Regions from separate parts of the Homo sapiens genome. Here region 2 is linked to region 1. Evidence: fine-mapped expression QTL. A gene starts in region 1. The other region holds a variant in brackets. All regions are shown on one strand. Distances are between the middles of the regions. Region 1 holds the start of PRUNE1 (prune exopolyphosphatase 1). Region 2 overlaps PRUNE1 (prune exopolyphosphatase 1).

What was found. PIP is the estimated chance that this variant, and not a neighbour inherited with it, causes the effect.
Region 2: its variant is fine-mapped to the expression of PRUNE1 in whole blood (INTERVAL, PIP above 0.99).

What each region holds. Positions count from the first base shown.
Region 1 is chr1:151,002,996-151,012,969 of GRCh38, forward strand. It overlaps PRUNE1 (prune exopolyphosphatase 1), which reads left to right and starts at 5,454. Exons shown (of 8, transcript NM_021222.3): 1 at 5,454-5,676. The coding sequence starts at 5,638. MINDY1 (MINDY lysine 48 deubiquitinase 1) reads right to left here and starts at 3,907. Exons shown (of 10, transcript NM_001376665.1): 1 at 3,317-3,907. RefSeq lists enhancers at 3,143-3,402, 3,633-3,812, 5,305-5,847, 5,848-6,388, 6,044-6,093.
Region 2 is chr1:151,026,226-151,036,199 of GRCh38, forward strand. PRUNE1 (prune exopolyphosphatase 1) reads left to right here. Exons shown (of 8, transcript NM_021222.3): 6 at 1,008-1,102; 7 at 2,561-2,719; 8 at 7,581-9,488. The coding sequence ends at 8,009. Among named protein-coding and RNA genes, the nearest start is that of BNIPL, 5.4 kb to the right of the region's middle. The variant T/C (reference allele first, on the strand shown) is at 5,302.

The DNA of each region.
Region 1 (9,974 bases):
GGAAAGACAGAGAGAAAGGGAGAGCACAAAGGAGAAAGAAGGATAAGAGGTGGAGAAAGAAATGTTAAATCTACGCTAATGGTTATTAATATGATGATCTTTAGCTTACTCTAATAGGCATCACATCAGTAACCCCCTCATAGCCATGACAGAGATAATTCCTCTGCCCTACCCCACACCCTGCCCCTTCACACAACATACTAAGAATACACAGTGCTTGTATGTTTAGGGATACCTTCTCTCTGCCTCACCCAAGGATAAAAAGATTAAGTCACATAGTACTTGGGGTGAAGAATGGAGGAGGCACAGAGAGTCAGTTTCATGCCCCTAAAGGTGAAATGCTGGTGAGGAAGGGGAAGTCTTCCACCTCAAAGGGCTCTACTGAACCTTACACAATCCCAAACCACAGTATAAAGGCCTTGGGAGGGGTTTCCTGTAAGCTGGGAGGGGAAATGTAGGTGGTGGGGGCTGGAATCAGAGACTGGTTTTGATAAATAACTTCAGATTAGGGGCACAAAAAGCACTCCCCACAAGTTCTTCCAGTAAGCTTCTCTTTAAAAAAAATTAATAAAGATATCAAATTTCTTTTAATTAAACTGAGACAGGGTCTTGCTTTGTTGCCTAGGCTGGTCTTAACTCCTGGGGGCCCAAGCAATCCGCCCTCCTCAGCCTGCCAAAGGACTGGGATTACAGGCATGAGCCACGGTGCCTGGACCCAGTAAGCATCTCTTGACAGCTAGCATTGAGACAGCAACTTTTCCTCAGTTCATTTTTTTTCCCCAGAAACTACCTAAACCCAGAGGTACTCTCTTGCCTGCTATTTCTATGAAATATGAAAATGCTGATTATTAATTTACATAACAATACTTCCTGTACATTCACCTACCTAAAGTTTTATGTCTATTCCCATCCAAGTGGTTTTATTTATTTATTTTTATTTTTTTGAGACAGAGTTTTGCTCTTGTTGCCTAGGTTGGAGTGCAATGGTGCGACCTCGGCTCACTGCAACCTCTGCCTCCTGGGTTCAAGTGATTCTCCTGCCTCAGCCTCCCGAGTAGCTGGGATTACAGGCATGCAACACCATGCCCAGCTAATTTTGTATTTTTTAGTAGAGATGGAGTTTCTCCATGTTGGTCAGGCTGGTCTTGAACTTCCGACCTCAGGTGATCCTCCCACCTTGGCCTCCCAAAGTGCTGGGATTACAGGCATGAGCCACCGTGCCCAGTCCTCTCCAGGTCATTTTAGATGTGAACACCGGACCTGTTTAACCTGTTCTCTATCAGCACTGGAGGCACATTGAGGCAAGCACAGATAGACATTTAACTAATACTGTGGGTATAAATAATAAAAAACCACAAATCCTGCCCTTTGGAAAACATCTCCCTTCAATCTCCTTGCTCCCCTCCCACTCTTTATCAGGGAGAGAAACAGGGAGAAATTAAACTAGTTAGGGGCCAGGCGCGGTGGCTCACGCCTGTAATCCCAGCACTTTGAGAGGCTGAGGCGGGCAGATTACTTGAGGTCAGGAGATCGAGACCATCCTGGCTAACATGGCAAAACGCTGTCTGTATTGAAAGTACAAAAATTAGCCAGGTGTGTTGGCACGTGCCTGTAGTCACAGCTGCTCGGGAGGCTGAGGTGGGAGAATTGCTTGAACCTGGGAGGCAGGGGGTTGCAGTGAGCTGAGATGGTGACACTGCACTACAGCCTGGGTGACAGAGCGAAACTCCATCTCAAAAATAAAATAAAATAAAATAAAATAAAATAAAATAAAATAAAATAAAATAAAATAAATTAAACTAGTTAGAAATCTTGTCTTTTCTCCACCCTCCTCCCAGCCTGAGACTGCTTCCTTCTTGTAAACCTACAGGAATTTGGGGCTAGGGGAAGGCCTGGGAGATGAGGTTGAGGAACATTAAAGTTACTGAAACAAAATAAGCCTAGTCACTCAAATTGATTATCCTCTTGATTCACATATGTTTATGCTAGCTGCATATCATTTACGTGTTGTTAATTTAGAATCAGAGTAGCAAAAATTGCCTGCAGGCCTTATGCTTTTTTTTCTCTCTCTTTCTCTCTCTCCTTTCCTTCTCCCCTTAAATGACACTTAGGGTGAACCTCAAAGCAGATGCCAGAGCCTGGAAAAGTGAAAAAGCTTGAAGAAAAGCAGGCCTTGGCCGGGCACAGTGCCTCACACCTGTATCCCAGCACTTTGAGAGGCCGAGGCGGGCGGATCACCTGAGGTCAGGAGCTCAAGATCGGCCTGGCTAACATGGCGAAACCCCATCTCTACTAAAAATACAAAAATTAGCCGGGCACGGTGGCGGGCACCTGTAATCCCAGCTACTCAGGAGGCTGAGGCAGGAGAATTGCTTGAACCCCGGAGGTGGAGGTTGCAGTAAGCCAAGATTGTGCCTCTGCACTCCAGCCTGGGTGACAAGAGTGAGACTCTTGCCTCCAAAAAAAAAAAGAAAAAAAGAAAAAAAAAAAAGAAAAGCAGGCCTTATTTTTTATATTTTCTCTCCAGTGCCAGAAATGATCAATGATGAAGTGGGGGTTGGGCAGCTAGCTGGCTGGAGAGGTGAGCCAAAGGAACCCAGGAGTGGACACCTGAGGGAGTGGGGTCTCAGAGGAACTGGGCAGAGCTAAATGGGCTAAGTCTTAAGAGGCAGGGGCAGGAAATGTAATGGAGGCTTTCTACTCTACAACGTCCAATCCTGCTGGGGAGGGCATGGAGTATTTCAGAGTAGGAAAGAATGAGGGAGAGGATAGTCAGATAAATCAAAGTTTCATTCTTTTCCTCCTCTTTCTTAGCTCGTCAAATCCTACACTTTCTCTCCAGCTGGAATTATGGTGGTGAGTGAGGGAGTTAAAATAATCCTGGCTCCTCCCTAATCAATGGCAGTAGAGAGCCGAAAGTTGGAAGAAGCACGTAAAACAGGTATGTAGCTTCAAGAAGACACTCCTTCTCTGTAGGAACAGTTCCCTTACTGTCTCACACCAATCTCCTTCTTAGTCTGACCTATGTCTTTGTGCAATCAATAGTTTAGATTTTCATCTCAGAATATGTCAACCATGGCCACAGTGCCCTGTATACTTGCTCACAAGGAGAGGGGGAAGGTTTCGTGCTTTCATTAAAAGGAGGAGGACCAAGCAGCATCCCCTTTACATGTCTCTCCTGACTTAGCTCCTCTAAGCAATCCAGACTTGCAGACCAAAGGTGGAAGGACAGCAGGTGTCAGCTCCCCAAAGCTGGAGAGGAAATAGAGAAGGGTGGGAGAAGAGGTGAAGAAGATGATTAAAATAAAGTTTTTACCTTAAAGAAGGGGGTGCTGTTCCAAGATTGAGAAGGAGGGTTCAGCCGTGGCAATGAGATGGGGGAGATAGGTGCAATGAAGGGGGCTGCCAGTGCCAGCTGCCTTCCAGCTGTCAACGCCTGAGCTTATACAGGTTTACACAGCTTTATAAGCGACGGTCCAGGCTGGGTTGTGGCCACTTCCGGACTCACGCCCAGTACTGGGGGCACTGGAGGAGGGTGAAGGCAGGCAGGGACACAGCCAAGGTGCTCCAGGTCGCTCAGAGAGTCTTCAGGATTCCTGAGTCGCCGAGTCTATGGCATGCGCTCCGGGCCCTGACTACAAGCTGGTTTTCAAAGGAAGTTTGTGGTTTTTCTTTTCTTCTCTCTCTCTTTTTTGTTCTCATCAGGACGAAGAAAAATTAGGCAAGGACAAGCTCCCTGGAGGAGGAGGGGCCTGCCCAGCGCTGGTGGATTTCCATCAGGACTTTCTGACCCGGTCAGCAGCTTTGTGATCAGCAGAGAGGGAGCGAGAAACAGGAGAGAAAAACAACAGACCCTTTCTCTTCCCTCTGCCTGCCTCTAGAAGGGACGGAGCGCTTGTGCCTCTCTGGTGAGAATAGGGAAGAGCAAGTGCCCTTGCTAAGTAGGGAGGAGAAGGGCTGGACAGAAGCAGCTTGTTGGATCTGGGCTCTCTCTCTGGGTATGGCAGTCCTTTGCTCTGGATCCACAGAAGCAGGAGCAAAGAGCACGATATTTGCATGTATTACTCAATTAATGTTAAAAACAAACAAACAAACCCAGCTCTTTTCCCTCTGGAGCCCTCCAGAGAGCTCCTTTCCAAGTCCTTGCTGTATCATTTTTAAGTCTAGAAATGAAACTGGTTGGGTTGTGCACCTGGTAGAGTGCAGAGGGTGTGGTAGAAGCCCCAGGCTCTGGGCGCGATGGCTGACGCCTGTAATCCCAGCACTTTGGGAAGCCAAGGCGGGCGGATCACAAGGTCAAGAGATCAAGACCAACCTGGCCAACATAGTGAAACCCCATCTCTACTAAAAATACAAAAATTAGCAGGGCATGGTGGCACATGCCTGTAGTCCCAGCTACTCGGGAGGCTGAGGCAGGAGAATCGCTTGAACCCGGGAGGTGGAGGTTGCAGTGAGCCAAGATCCTGCCACTGCACTCCAGCCTGAAGACGGAGCAAGACTCCGTCTCAAAAAGAAGAAGAAGAAGAAAAGAACTGGCAGAGCAGGCAGGAGATCCAACACGCCTGTGCTCTGGATCTTGGTTCCACTGCAGGCCTCTCATCAGTCACCTCCTCTCGATTTACAGCTGGGGAAGCAGGAAAAGCTGGTGTGAGGCTGACGGTAGGAAATAAAGGGATAGATAAATAAATGAGGGAATTTTTGATGATGAGTGTCCATTTATTTGCAGTACCTGCACTACTCTGCGGCTGGAAAGTGGCAGTTAAGGGAGGTTGGAACCTAACTCCACATTCTGAAGGGTTCCCTAAACTCTATGTACAGGGCCGCCACAGGATGAAATTTCAAGCAACTCTAAAGGCTGAAAGAGCAATTGGAACAATTAGGGTGGCAGAGAGCAAAAAGCCAAGGTTACAACCGTCCAAGAAAGGAAGAAGATATTTGCCGAGGCTGTAGAAAAAAACAGGCTACAGAGTTGCAAAGGGAGAAGCAGCAGGAGTTGGCAGGAGACTGTAGGTGTTAACAAGAGGGGTCAAAGATTATTCTAATGTTCTCCTAACATGAACAACCACAAAATTGGTGGCGACTGAGTCAGTTTGGTAAAGGGCAGAATTTGTAGAAAGAAGATGATCTGTTTTGCCAAGTGTCATTTAAAATGTCACCAGATGCTCGGTGTGATATATGTAAAGATGTTATACTTGGCCTGATCTGAGAGGGAAAGTTCAGATGCCACAATAATGGGTTACTGTGACACATACACATTTGTTTACCGAACGACTGATCCCTCAGAAAACAATCCTTCCCTCGGTTGCTAGGGACATTGCGGAGTTGCGGGACTACGTTTCCCACGTCGCCCCACGCCACGCCCCCTTGGCCTCGCCGGAAAGACGTCCCAGGAGCCTCTGGGCGTAGAGCCCCGCCTCCGCCGCTGGGGGCGGGGCGACGCCGGACTCCGGAGCGCCCGCTTACGCAGTTCCTCCCGGGGTCGGAGGCCGATTCGCCGTGTGGCGGGTTCGAGTCCCGCCTCCTGACTCTGGCCTCTAGTCCCTGAGTCCCGGGCGGGCTGCATTCGTCGGGGAAACCTCTCCTCGACCAGGGGCACCTCTACTCGACCAGGGGCGACGGCGTACTTTGGGCTTCATCATGGAGGACTACCTGCAGGGTTGTCGAGCTGCTCTGCAGGTAACGAATCCCTGTCTGTGACTGTAAGGAATGGAGCACGGGGTCCAGGAAGGACGAAGACGTGGGATCTGGGGGAGCCTCGACGGTCCGTGTGGAGGGAACACTGAGTTGTGGGGAGGGGGGTTGGGGCCTGATCAGTTTTGGGGCATGAGGAGCGAGGAGCGAGAAGCCAGTTTAGGAGCGTGAGAATGCTGCTTGTTCAGTCTCCCGGTTTTTGGCTCCCCGCCTTTGGGGTCCGCCTGAGAGCGGGGAGAAGTCTTGGGTCTGAATCCTGCATTTGAGCCTCTGCTTGCTGTCATCTTGGTCAGTTCCATCAAAAAAACCAGGACTGTGCCGCCGCCAGCCTAGCCCCGCGAGGTGTGTTTATTCTTTTCTCCCCGCCCCTCTTTGAGTTCTCCGCTCCCAAGGCTTCGCTTGGCCCACTGGCCTCCAGGTGAACCTCGGGGGTGTGGAGGGAACCGGTGCTCACGGCCTTATTTCCTCCGAATGGCAGTTTCTGTCTGGCGGGCTGAACTCATTTCTAGGTTAGAAGTAGTCACAGTATTTTACTTTAAGTCAGTGTTTTTAAGCCAAACATACAAAATCCATCAGGCATATTTGTTGACCCACAACCAGCATTCCTTTGCCTCCAGGTTTCTCCTTTGGCCTTAACGCACACAAATGACATAAAAATTCTCCACTTGGAAGGGATAAGCACAAAGTGTGTTTGGAATCAAAACCATAAATATGACTACTCAATGCTTTGTGGCTTATTTTTGGTGCTCTCTGACTCAGTTGGACTCACCCAGCCATGCTGAGCCGTCATGAGGCATTAGGCTGTTATCCCCAGTTAGCAGCAAAAAGCTAACCAGAGACAGGCTCCAGGAGGTCACCCGGCCCCTCTACTTTGAGTTATACTGCCCTGAAGAAACCTAGATAGATGGCTTGCTGAGCTTTCCTTTTTAGATATCTTAAACTCTACAAATTCCCCTGAGGGACAGATTCTGGTCTTTAACAAATCCTGAAAGTCACTAATTCCTGCTGCAGACTCAGCTGCTGGAATAAATGAATTGTCTTCATATTGAATTGGGGAGAAGGTCCATTTTAACACCAATTACATAGACATTTTCCTTGTGAAAAACAAATTTGGGGAGTTATTTCAATGCATAAGGCCATTTGGAACCAATCCCTTTTTGTTACCTCTGAGTCCACCACAGGGCGCTTATTGGAGGACTAATGTAGAGTTTTTGGGGCACCGTTCTAAGTGCTAAACAGTTGGATTTTACCCCCCAGTAACCCAAATGACTGGTCTCTTCCACCATTTGGTAAAGTGCCCTTGGACCTGAAACCTCACCAAATAGTATTTCTTTGCATGCATCTACTCTCCAGCATATATCCTCCAGAGCCTCCCCCGACCCCCAGGTTAGTAGTATATTCTCTATTTTTATTTTGTATTTGTTTATTTATTTTCAGCCAGGGTCTCACTCTGTTGCCCTGGCTGGAGTGCAATGGTGTGATCACCTCCCCGGCTCAAGTGATCCTCCCACCTCAGCCTCCCGAAAAAGCTGCGACTATAGGCAGTGCCACCACGCAGGGCTAATTTTTTGTATTTTTATAGAGACAGGGTCTCGCCATGCTGCCCAATCTGGTTTCAAACTCCTGGACTCAAACAATCCCCCTGGCTTGGCTTCCCAAGGTGTTGGAATTACAGGTGTTAGCCACTGTACCCAGCCCGAATAGTATATTCTCTACAGCAATATGAAGCTGGAAAAATACTTGATTTTTCCAATACTGCTGGCATCTCGACCTTTCTCTCCCTGCATTCATCCCCCAAGGAGCAAGATCTAGATCTTCCTTTCAAACTTGTGAACTTGTGAAAGGTGAGATTGTGTCTTAGAGCTTGCATCATCACATAGCCTCTCCAGGGCCTGGAGAAATGAGAAAATTAGACTCTAGGAAGGTTAACAGGGGAACTGATGGCAAGACATACTGGTAGATGCCAACAATTTAAATTGCTTTAATTTTTTTTTTTTTTTTTTTGAGATAGACTCACTCTGTCGCCCAGGCTGGAGTAGGCTCACTGCAACCTCCACTTCCCGAATTCAAGCGATTCTTCTGCCTCAGCCTCCTGAGTAGCTGGGATTACAAGTGTGCGCCACTATGCCTGGCTAAGTTTTGTATTTTTAGTAGAGACAGGGTGTCACCATGTTGGACAGGCTGGTCTTGAACTCCTGACCTCAAGTGATATGCCTGCCTTGGTCTCCCAAAGTGCTGGGATTATAGGCATGAGCCACCACACCCAGCCTAGATTGCTTTAAATTATAGAAGTAGTAAATGTGTATTTCATGAACAAATTTAAATACCAAAGGGATATGAAATGAAAAAGATAAAGATCATTTTTCTTTTCTCCTCTCCATCCAGTTCTCCAGAGGACACCGTTAAGTTTCTTGTGTAAAGAGAGAGAGGTGATTTAGACAGATACACTCTTAAGTTTGAATGTTTCTGTTAAACTACAGTTTAATTATAACTTTCAGAAAATCATGAATGCTCCTCTTTGTGCAGGATAAAGACAGCTGGTAATCCAGCCAAGTCTCCCGTTGCTACCATATTTTTAGTATTTGATACCACAGAAATTTTCTATAGCCTCTGCCACAGAGACAATAGGATGTTCCATTAAAAAAAAATCATTTAACCAAATGTCCTATTTATGGTGACTCATCTTTCACTTCTGAGGGGAGAAATCTTTGCTTCAGGGTGGGGCTGCATTGCAGTTTAGGTGTTCATCCAGGACCCCTTGGATAATGTAGTGTGTGCAGTTCTCAGGCATGAGGCAGGAATCAGGAGCTGGCTCTCCTTAGAAATTTGCAGTCCTGGCATCAGTATTGTTCCTGTTTTCTCTGCTGAGAGGGTTTGTCTCTCTCTGGCTTTCTGTCTCGTTTATTTTTCTCCCCCATTAACTATTCTGAAGAGTAGTTATCATACCATATTCAGCTTTAGAAGGGAAGTGGTTTACTTTGCCAGGCCTAGAATCCCCTCCCTGCCCCCTCCTCTTGAGGCCACAAAGAACATATCAGGATAAGAGAGTCATTTCAACTAGTGGGTGTTTATTCATTTATTTATTTTAATTAATTAATTTTTTTTTTTTTTGAGACAAAGTCTCGCTCTGTCACCAGGCTGGAGTACAGTTGCATGATCTCGGCTCACTGCAACCTCCGCCTGCCAGGTTCAAGTGATTTTCCTGCCTCAGCCTCCCGAGTAGCTGGGACTACAGGCATGTGCCACCATGCCCAGCTAATTTTTGTATTTTTAGTAGAAACGGGGTTTCACCATGTTGGCCAGGATGGTCTCAATCTCTTGACCTCGTGGTCGGCCCACCTCGGCCTCCCAAAGTGCTGGGATTACAGGCGTGAGCCACCGTGCCTGGCCAACTAGTGGGTCTTTAAAAAAAAGAAAAAAGAAAAAAAGTTTGTATTTATTTACTTGTGGCCCTCAGATTGTATTTTTTCCATTGGCAGCTTAGATTTCCTCATGCTGCTAAGTATAGCTGTATTTTCCCTGAACTCTTTCTCTGATGGTCAGAAAACTGAGGCTGTTTGGCTTGTGCTTTCAGCTGGTGGAGGATGGGCTTGGAATTAGGGGTTACACATGTTTTTCTTAAATAAAGAAGAGAATGATGTCTTATAAGTTGGGCAGCCCCACACACGGTTTGCCCAGGGCAGTCTTGGTTTTCCCCTGTGTAATCATTAATAGCACCCCTTTTCATTCTCATAAGCGTCCCAGTTTGAACAATCAAATATATAGTCACCCACCACATAAGCCATGTTAAGGATCAGGGATACATGACCATGAAAAGACAGGGAGCTCCTTAAGATAGAAGTTAAGGTCTGTCTCAGAGCCACAAGTGCTAGAAGCTGGAGGTTTAGAGGAAGAGGATTTCTCTGGGCTGGGTGTTCAGGAAGGCTTCACAGAGAAAGACATTAGGTAGACTTGAACAACGGGGAGAAGTAAAGAAAGAAGATGGGAGATCACATCTTTACTATTTACAGCGTAGGCACTTATGGTACTATCTCATTTAATCCTCCTAACAACATCATGAAATTGGTTACGATATTATTCTCATTTTTTTTGTTTGTTTTTTTGAGATGGAGTCTCACACTGTCACCCAGGCTGGAGTGCAATGGTGGGATCTCGGCTCACTGCAACCTCCGCCTCCCGGGTTCAAGCAATTCTCCCTGCCTCAGCCTCTGGAGTAGCTGAGATTACAGGCACCTGCCACCACACCCGGCTAATTTTTGTGCTTTTTAGTTTCACCATGCTTG
Region 2 (9,974 bases), 23 kb after region 1:
GTGGGCAGATCACCTGAGGTCAGGAGTTCAAGACCAGCCTAGCTAACATGGTGAAACTCCGTTTCTACTAAAAATACGAAAAATTAGCTGAGCGTGGTGGTGTGTGCCTGTAATCCCATCTACTCAGGAGGCTGAGGCAGGAAAATCGCTTGAACCCGGGAAGTGGAGGTTGCAGTGAGCCGAGATTGCGCCATTGTACTCCAGCTTGGGCAACGACAGCGAAACTCCGTCTCAAAAAAAAACAAAAAGAGCCTCATAGGTTCCAGTCTATTCAGAGAATACAGGACATATATATAAAATATGCTGAGAGTATACTAAATTATCAGAGTGAAATCTATAGAATTGGTTAGGGAGGCAAAAGAAATATTTTGTGAGTAAACAAAAGATGAAGAGAACCCAAAAAAAACTGTATTCTTGTACTCAGCTACCACCTGTTGACATAAAAAGGAAGAAAGAAAGAAAGAACTCACATGTAAACAGTATAGGAAGAGGGAAAGATAAAAAGTAAAAGCCTCTGTTCTGGGTTTCATCCTTCTCTCCAAAGTTACTTGCTCTAAAGGTACCTATTGTCACCAGTTATTTAAGATGGCTTTTGATTATGTGATTACATTTTCTTTCTTTCTTTTTTTTTTTTTTTTTTGAGACAGAGTCCAGGTTCAAGTGATTCTCCTGCTTCAGCCTCCTGAGTAGCTGGGATTACAAGTGCCCGCCACCACACCCAGCTAATTCTTTGTATTTTTAGTAGAGACAGAGTTTCATCATGTTGACCAGGCTGGTCCCAAACTCCTGACCTCAGGTGATCCGCCCACCTCAGCCTCCCAAAGTGCTGGGATTACAGGCCTGAGTCACCGCGCCCGGCTATGATTACATTTTCAATTATCTCCCCCATTCATTGCCCCAAAGAGAGGCTGTTTTTCCTTCCTTGACCCATCTGGCTGTCCTTGCCTTCTTGGTCTTGGGACCCTGGCCTACCCTGTTTGACCCCTAGTCTCTCATCTGCTTTCTAGGACTGACCACTGAGCAGATGCTGAGAAAAGACCAGAAGACTATCTATAGACAAGGCGTCAAGGTGGCCATTAGTGCAATATATATGGATTTGGAGGTAAGAGCAAGTTGTGGCTGTGGGTGGGGAGAGAAAGCCTTTAGCTATGCATGTTATGCATGTGGCCTTGCACCTCATTCCTGGCTCACCTCCAAAATGTATCTTGTGTCTATCTTTGTCTCTACCTCCACTGTGACCACCAGAGTCCAGCATCTCTCACTGCACCGCTGTATTAGCCTCAGTACTGGTGTCCCTGCCTCTGCTTTTGCAGCCCTACAAACCATTCTCCCCGCAGCAGCCAGAGTGGTCTTTTTTAATTTTTTTTTTTTTTTTTTAAGGGAGTCATGCTTTGTTGCCAGGCTAGAGTACAGTGGTACCATCATGGCTCACTGCAGCCTCAACCTTCCAGGCTCAAGCAATCCTCCCACCTTAGCCTCTCGAGTAGCTGGGTCCACAGGTGCACACCACCACACCTAACTAGTGTGTGTGTGTGTGTGTGTGTGTGTGTGTGTGTGCGCGCGCGTGTATGTATGTGTCGATGGGGTCTCACTATGTTGCCCAGGCTGGTCTCAAACTCCTGGCCTCAAGCAGTTCTCCTTTTGGCCTCCGAAGTTCTGGGATTATAGGCGTGAGCCACTGTGCCCGGCCTCATTGTATTTTTAATAAAATCTAAAGGACTTACTGTGGTTTACAGCGCCATGCTTGATCTGGCCCTTGTCTTTTTCTCTGGCCTCATCTCATTCCAGCTCCACTCCTGTTCTACAGTACTGCAGCCACACTGGTTTCTTTTCTGTTCCTCAGAACCATTAAGCTCATTCCCAGCTGAGCTTTTTTCTTTGTAAAGCTGGCTCCTTCTTAACATTCAGGTACTCAGCTCAGATGTCTCTTGTTTTGGGAGGTTTTTCCTGACCACCCTAACTGAAGTACTATCTCCTATGCTCAAAAAACCTCTAGCAGTTATGTATGTATGTTTGTTTGTTTGTTTGTTTTGAGCCTGAGTCTTATTCTGTTGCCCAGGATGGAGTGGAATGGCATGATCTCAGCTCACTGCAACCTCTGCCTCCCGGGTTCAAGTAATTCTCCTGCCTCAGCCTCCCTAGTAGCTGGGATTACTGGTGCGTGCCGGCATGCCCAGCTAATTTTTTGTTTTGTTTTGTTTTGTTTTTGTTTTTTGAGACGGAGTTTCGCTCTTGTCCCCCAGGCTGGAGTGCAATGGCGCAATCTCAGCTCACTGCAACTTCCGCCTCCCTGGTTCAAGCGATTCTCCTGCCTCAGCCTCCTGAGTAGCTGGGATTACAGGCATATGCCCCCATGCCCGGCTAATTTTTGTATTTTTACCAGAGACAGGGTTTCACCATGTTGGCTAGGCTGGTCTCGAACTCCTGACCTCAAGTGATCACCTGCCTCGGCCTCCCAAAGTGCTAGGATTATAGGCGTAAGCGACCGTGCCCGGCCCAAGGATGTTTTATTGATGATGATGAGAAAGTCCTTCATCCCTCTCCGTTTCTTCCCTTTCAGGCCTTTCTGCAGAGGTCTAACCTCCTTGCAGATCTCCATGCTTTCTGCCAGGCTCACAGCTATGATGTCCTGGTTGCCATGACTATCTTTTTCAACACTCACAATGAGCCAGTGCGGCAGTTGGCTATTTTCTGTCCCCATGTGGCACTCCAAACAACGGTGAGTCTGTGTCCCTTCTCCAACCTAAGAGCCTTACAGAGTCTGCCTGTATGTACCTCTGTGCTCTACAGCTGTCCTATAAGGACCTCTCTTAGGTTCTTATATTAATGTACTTACATGAGGTCCCTTGACCTGTTTCTGGACCTGTTTCCTCCCCTTTCTGCTTTTTCCCATTCTCTCTCTATATGAATATCCTTTTTTTTTTTTTAATGAACATCCTTAATCATAGCATTGTTGAGAAAGGGGGAATTCCAAAGAGAACTAGAGATTCAATTCCTACTTTGAAAGAACGAAATCTAGTTAGAAGGAAATGTTATAAATCCGGAGTTAAAATTCCCTTCTTGAGCTAGGGACAGTGGCACGTGCCTGTAGTCCCAGCAACTCGGGAGGCTGATGCAGAAGGATTGCTTAAGCTGGAAAGTTTTTTTTTTTTTTTTTTTTTTGAGACAGTCTTGTGCTGTTGCCCAGGCTGGGGTGCAGTGGCACAATCTCGGCTCACTGCAAGCTCTGCCTCCTGGGTTAACGCCATTGTCCTGCCTCAGCCTCCCGAGTAGCTGGGACTACAGGCGCCCGCCACCACGCCCGGCTAATTTTTTGTATTTTTAGTAGAGACGGGGTTTCACCGTGTTAGCCAGGATAGTCTCGATCTCCTGACCTCGTGATCCGCCCGCCTTGGCCTCCCAAAGTGCTGGGATTACAGGCGTGAGCCACCGCGCCCAGCCGAGCTGGAAAGTTTGAGTCCAGCCTGGGCAAAGATAGCAAGACCTCATCTCTGTTGGGGAAAAAAAAAAACAAAAACTCTATTCTTGGTTTAATCATTAATTCCTCACCCCTGGAATTATGCTGTTGCCTTGAAAATTAGAAATACGAGAGACCTTTTCTGCTACTTACTATGCAGGGATTAATTATTCTGTATAGTGCAAACTCTGTAAAGAAGTGATCTAGATCCAGATTTGGCTATCTTTCCTACTTCCTCCCCCTTCTGTTCCTCTGCTGGTTACTGATTAGCCTAGGGAAGAATTTAAAAGTGGGCTTAAGGCTGGGTGCGGTGGCTCACACCTGTAATCCCAGCACTTTGGGAAGCTGAGGCGGGCAGATCACGAGAGCAAGAGATCAAGACCATCCTGGCCAACATGGTGAAACCCCATCTCTTTTAAAAATACGGAAATTAGCTGGGCGTGGTGGTGCGTGCCTATAGTCCCAGCTACTCAGGAGGCTGAGGCAGGAGAATCTCTTGAACCTCGGCAAGCAGAGGTTGCAGTGAGCCGAGATTGCGCCACTGTACTCCATCCTGCCAACAGAGCAAGACTCCGTCTCCAAAAAAAAAAAAAAAAAAGGTGGGCTTAAGGCAGTTCAGGGATTCTGAGGGTTGCCTAGGCTCTGTGAGGACTGCTAAAGACAGAATACAGCCAGATAATCCTTTGCTCTCATAGAAGGTATGTCTGTCCTTTCCCGCCCCCCTTTGCCTTTGCCTTCTCCCCAGGAAGCAAATCTGATTTCATTCAGTGTAAGGTAGTTCGTCATTATGAAAAGAACTGCAGTTTTGTCTGTTTGTTTGTTTTTTAAGATGGAGTCTCACTCTGTCGCCCAGGCTTGAGTACAGTGGTGTGATCTTGGCTCACTGCAACCGCCACCTCCCAGGTTCAGTCAGTTCTCCCACCTCAGCCTGTAGCTGGGACTACAGGCGCCTGCCACCATGCCTGACTAATTTTTGTATTTTTAGTAGAGATGGGGTTTCACCATGTTAGCCAGGCAGGTCTCGAACTCCTGACCTCAAGTGATCCACCTGCCTTGGCCTTCCGAAGTGCTGGAATTACAAGCCTGAGCCACTGCACCTGGCCAAGAACTGCAGTTTTTAAAGTCAGGTAGATGTGCTTTTCTGTTCTAGGTTTGCCTCTTACTCACTCTTTGAGCTAAGGCAAGTCAGTTGACTTCTGCATCTGGAAATGGCATAATAGTACCTACTGCTAATTCTGCTATGATCATTAAACGTAATATCATGTGTAAAGCACACTCCTGGAGCAGAGTAAGCACTTTGTAAATAGTGGCTCTTACTAATCCTGTCAGTAAGAAAAGGGTGCTTTGGCCATTAGAAGTACCTCTTCCACGTTCCTGAATCTTCTCCCCTCTGTGCTGCTCTTTTAAAGCTGTGTGGATTTCTAATGACTCTACCATTGTCTAGGTTGCCCCTATGCTTGGAAACAGGAGTCCTTCTCTCTCTGTTTTGTTTTTGTGTGTGTGTGTGTGTGTTTTTTTTTTTTTTTGAGATGTCTCACTCTGTTGACCAGGCTGGAGTGGTACAATGGCACTATCTCAGCTCACTGCAACCTCTGCCTCCCGGGTTCAAGCAATCCTCCCAGCCTCCCAAGTAGCTGCGGCTACAGGCACACCACCATGGCTAGCTAATTTTTTTTGTATTTTTTGTAGGGACAGAGTCTCGCTATGTTGCCCAGGCTGGTCTCGAACTCCTGGACTCAAGTGATCCACCAGCCTCAGCTTCCCAGAGTTCTGGAATTGCAGGTGTGGGCCACTATGCCCAGCCAGGAGTCCTTTTCTTACAGTCTACTCTACCATCTCCTCTC[T/C]TTCTCCTATGTTAGGGGTAGTATAATATATTGATTTAGAACACTGGCTTTGGTGACAGCTCTGGGCTCAGTGTCAGTTTTGCTTCATGCAAATTATGACCTTAGGCAAGTTACCTGATCATTGAAGCCTCAGTTTCCCTGCATGTAAGTGAGGGTAATAGTGATACCAGTCTTATTTTGTTCAATTCATTCTTTCTTCCTCCATCCCTCTTCTGGCCTCTAGATAAATTCTAGTTCCATCCTAGTTCAAGTTCTTGAGCACATTTATACACTTGGAAACGACACTAGATTAGAAGCTGGGGTTCCTCGGTTCTGGTTTAACTGCCATCATCTGCATGATTTTACTCACAACCATCTTACTTCGCTTTAGTTACTTTAATAATAAAATGAAATATACAATCTAAACTGTTTCCTCTGTTTTTAAAATACTGTGTATGGCTGGGTATGGTAGCTCATGCCTGTAATCCCAGAACTTTGGGAGGCTGAGCTGGGCAGATCACCTGAGCTCAGGAGTTTGAGACCAGCCTGGCCAATATGGCGAAACCCCGTCTCTACTAAAAATACAAAAATTAGCTGGGCATGATGGCAGGTGCCTGTAATCCCAGCTACTCAGGAGGCTGAAGCAAGAGAATTGCTTGAATCTGGGAGGCGAAGGTTGCAGTGAGCTAAGATCGTGCCACTGTACTCCAGCCTGGGTAACAGAGCAAGAATCCATTTCAAAAAAAAAAAAATTAAAGTAAAATAAAATAAATAAAACACTGTGTATGAATCCCAGCACTTTCGGAGGCTGAAGCAGGAGGATTGCTTGAGACCAGGATTTGGAGACCAGCCTGGGCAACATAGCAAGACCCCATCCCTAGTCTATTAAATAAAAAATACAAAATACTAAAATAAAATACTGTGGGCCAGGCTTGGTGGCTCACACCTGTAATCCTAGCACTTTGGGAGGCCGAGGCGAGAGCGGATGACCTGAGGGCAGGAGTTCGAGACCAGCCTGGCTAACATGGTGTAACCCCGTCTCCACTAAAAATACAAACATTAGCCAGGCTGGGTGACACATGCCTGTAGTCCCAGCTACATGGGAGGCTGAGGCAGGAGATTCACTTGAACCGGGGAGGCAGAGGTTGTACTGAACTGAGATTGCACCACTGCACTCCAGCCTGGGCGACAGAGCAAGACTCTGTCTCAAAAAAAAAAAAAAATACTGTGTATATTAGTGTTCCTTCTGTTGCAAACAATAAAACCGAACTCTGGACAACTTACTTTTTTTCTTGTCTTGCTTTATTGCCCAGGCTGGAGTGCAATGGTGAGATCTCGGCTCACTGCAACCTCCGCCTCCCAGGTTCAAATGATTCTCCTATCTCAGCCTCCCAAGTAGCTGGGATTACAGGTGTGAACCACCATGTCTGGCTAATTTTTGTATTTTTCGTAGAGATGGGGTTTCAGCATGTTGACAAGGCTGTTCTCGAATTCCTGACCTCAGGTGATCCGCCCACCTTGGCCTCCCAAAGTGCTGGGATTACAGGCGTGAGCCACTGTGCCCGGCCTCAAGGATAACTTACTTTTTTTTTTTTTTGAGACGGAGTTTCGCTCTTGTTGCCCAGGCTGGAGTGCAGTGGCACCATCTTGGCTCACTGCAACTTCTGTCTCCTGGGTTCAAGTGATTCTCCTGCCTCAGCCTCCCAAGTAGCTGGGATTACAGGCATGCGCCATCATGCCTGGCTAATTTTGTATTTTTAGTAGAGATGGGGTTTCTCCATGATGGTCAGGCTGGTCTCAAACTCCCGACCTCAGGTGATCGGCCCCCTTTAGCCTCCCAAAGTGCTGGGATTACAGGCGTGAGCCACCGCGCCCGGCTGACTTACTTTTTTTTTTTTTTTTTGAGATGCAGTGTTGCTCTGTCGCCCAGGCTGGAGTGCAGTGGCGCGATCTCCGCTCACTGCAAGCTCCGCCTCCTGGGTTCACGCCATTCTCCTGCCTCAGCCTCCCGAGTAGCTGGGACTACAGGCACCCGCCACCATGCCCGGCTAATTTTTTGTATTTTTAGTAGAGACGGGGTTTCACTGTGTTAGCCAGGATGGTCTCAATCTCCTGACCTCATGATCCACCCGCCTCGGCCTCCCAAAGTGCTGGGATTGCAAGCGTGAGCCACCGCACCCCGCCCGGCCGACTTACTTTTTAAAAGCTTCCTCTTCTATAGAGGAAGCCTCTCACTTAGAAGCCCAGCACTTTGCTACAGCAAGTTGTGTATCATTTCCCTGTTATTGTCTCCTCTTTAGATCTGTGAAGTCCTGGAACGCTCCCACTCTCCACCCCTGAAGCTGACCCCTGCCTCAAGTACCCACCCTAACCTCCATGCCTATCTTCAAGGCAACACCCAGGTCTCTCGAAAGAAACTTCTGCCCCTGCTCCAGGAAGCCCTGTCAGCATATTTTGACTCCATGAAGATCCCTTCAGGACAGCCTGAGACAGCAGATGTGTCCAGGGAGCAAGTGGACAAGGAATTGGACAGGGCAAGTAACTCCCTGATTTCTGGCCTGAGTCAAGATGAGGAGGACCCTCCGCTGCCCCCGACGCCCATGAACAGCTTGGTGGATGAGTGCCCTCTAGATCAGGGGCTGCCTAAACTCTCTGCTGAGGCCGTCTTCGAGAAGTGCAGTCAGATCTCACTGTCACAGTCTACCACAGCCTCCCTGTCCAAGAAGTGACTGTTGAGAGGCGAGGAGGTAGTGGGTGAGGCTACCTGACTCACTTCAAATGCATGTTTTGAGATGTTTGGAGATTCAGCAATTCTGTCTTCATTGCTCCAGGATCTGGTATACTGTTCTCATAAAACTGAGAGGAGAAAAAAAGTGAAAGAAAGCAGCTGCTTTAAGAATGGTTTTCCACCTTTTCCCCCTAATCTCTACCAATCAGACACATTTTATTATTTAAATCTGCACCTCTCTCTATTTTATTTGCCAGGGGCACGATGTGACATATCTGCAGTCCCAGCACAGTGGGACAAAAAGAATTTAGACCCCAAAAGTGTCCTCGGCATGGATCTTGAACAGAACCAGTATCTGTCATGGAACTGAACATTCATCGATGGTCTCCATGTATTCATTTATTCACTTGTTCATTCAAGTATTTATTGAATACCTGCCTCAAGCTAGAGAGAAAAGAGAGTGCGCTTTGGAAATTTATTCCAGTTTTCAGCCTACAGCAGATTATCAGCTCGGTGACTTTTCTTTCTGCCACCATTTAGGTGATGGTGTTTGATTCAGAGATGGCTGAATTTCTATTCTTAGCTTATTGTGACTGTTTCAGATCTAGTTTGGGAACAGATTAGAGGCCATTGTCTTCTGTCCTGATCAGGTGGCCTGGCTGTTTCTTTGGATCCCTCTGTCCCAGAGCCACCCAGAACCCTGACTCTTGAGAATCAAGAAAACACCCAGAAAGGCCTTAATGACCTCATAGGCACTCTTCCAAAAAGACAACAGAACTGGAATGAGAGGCCTGGGTCTGTCTCCTGCCTTAGCAGGCCTATCAATTTCTTGTCAATCTCTTTTTTTCCTTGCTCACATTAAAAGGAAGCATGGAGTTCTAATGCTCCCATAAACTATGTATTTTGGCAAGACACTTCACTACTCCAGGTCTCACTTTCCCCATCTGTAAAACAGGGTTTGGACTAGGTGTTCCCTGGTATTCTGTGATCTGCCTCTTGCTGCCATTCTTTCTCTCCTCTGCTTCTCTGTATTTTTCTTCTGTTATCCCTGGGGGTGCTCAGGTTCACTTGATTGTCTGTATTTCTGTGTGGTTGTAGCAAGGACTCAGCCTCATGTAGCACGAATAGGGGTGTGGTTCATGGCGTGTTGACCCAGCAGAGCACTCCCTCCCACTAACTTGTTCTGCATGTGTAGAGTCTCCCCATTTTTTTTAACGCAACCCTTTCCCCTTTTTCCTACCCCACAGCTCTGTTCCATGTAAGTTGCCAACAGTTTCACTGAACAGTGGGGTATGTGATGGTTTTGGCATGACATCTTCAGTATGAGGGGGACAGTTTGACTTCACTTTGAGGGTGTGATGTCTGTAGCTATGTGGAAGGTAAAAATAGTGGTGTGATCATGAACCAAAGGAATTTATGTTTTGTAACTTGGGTACTTTATTTTGCATTTTGTTATACTATTAAATAATTTTTTCCTGTTTGGGGGTCTTACTGTCTTTTTTTACAAGTGTATTCAGGCCTTTCTCTGTGATAGTTGTTTCAGTCTCCTCAAAATTGATCCCCCTTCTTCCTACTATACTTAATGTCTTCTTTCTGTTGACTCTTTTTGGGAATAAGGAGCAACAGGCTTCTGTCTCCCCTCATCCTCAGCCTCCCGTTCAACTTGTTTATTCTCCCAGAAACCTCCTTATAACATACTTCCGTTTCCCCAGTTTTCCTTATGCTTGAAAAGTAGATCCAAGATAACAGTCCTAGAAACACACACAATGGTTTCTTTTTCTTTTTTTTTTTTTTTTTGAGATGGAGTTTTGCTCTTTTTGCCCTGGCTGGAGTGCAATGGCACAATCTCAGCCCACTACAACCTCTGCCTCCCAGGTTCAAGCGATTCTCCTGCCTCAGCCTCCCAAGTAGCTGGGATTATAGGCATGTGTCACCACGCCCAGATAATTTTTTTTTTTTTTTTTTT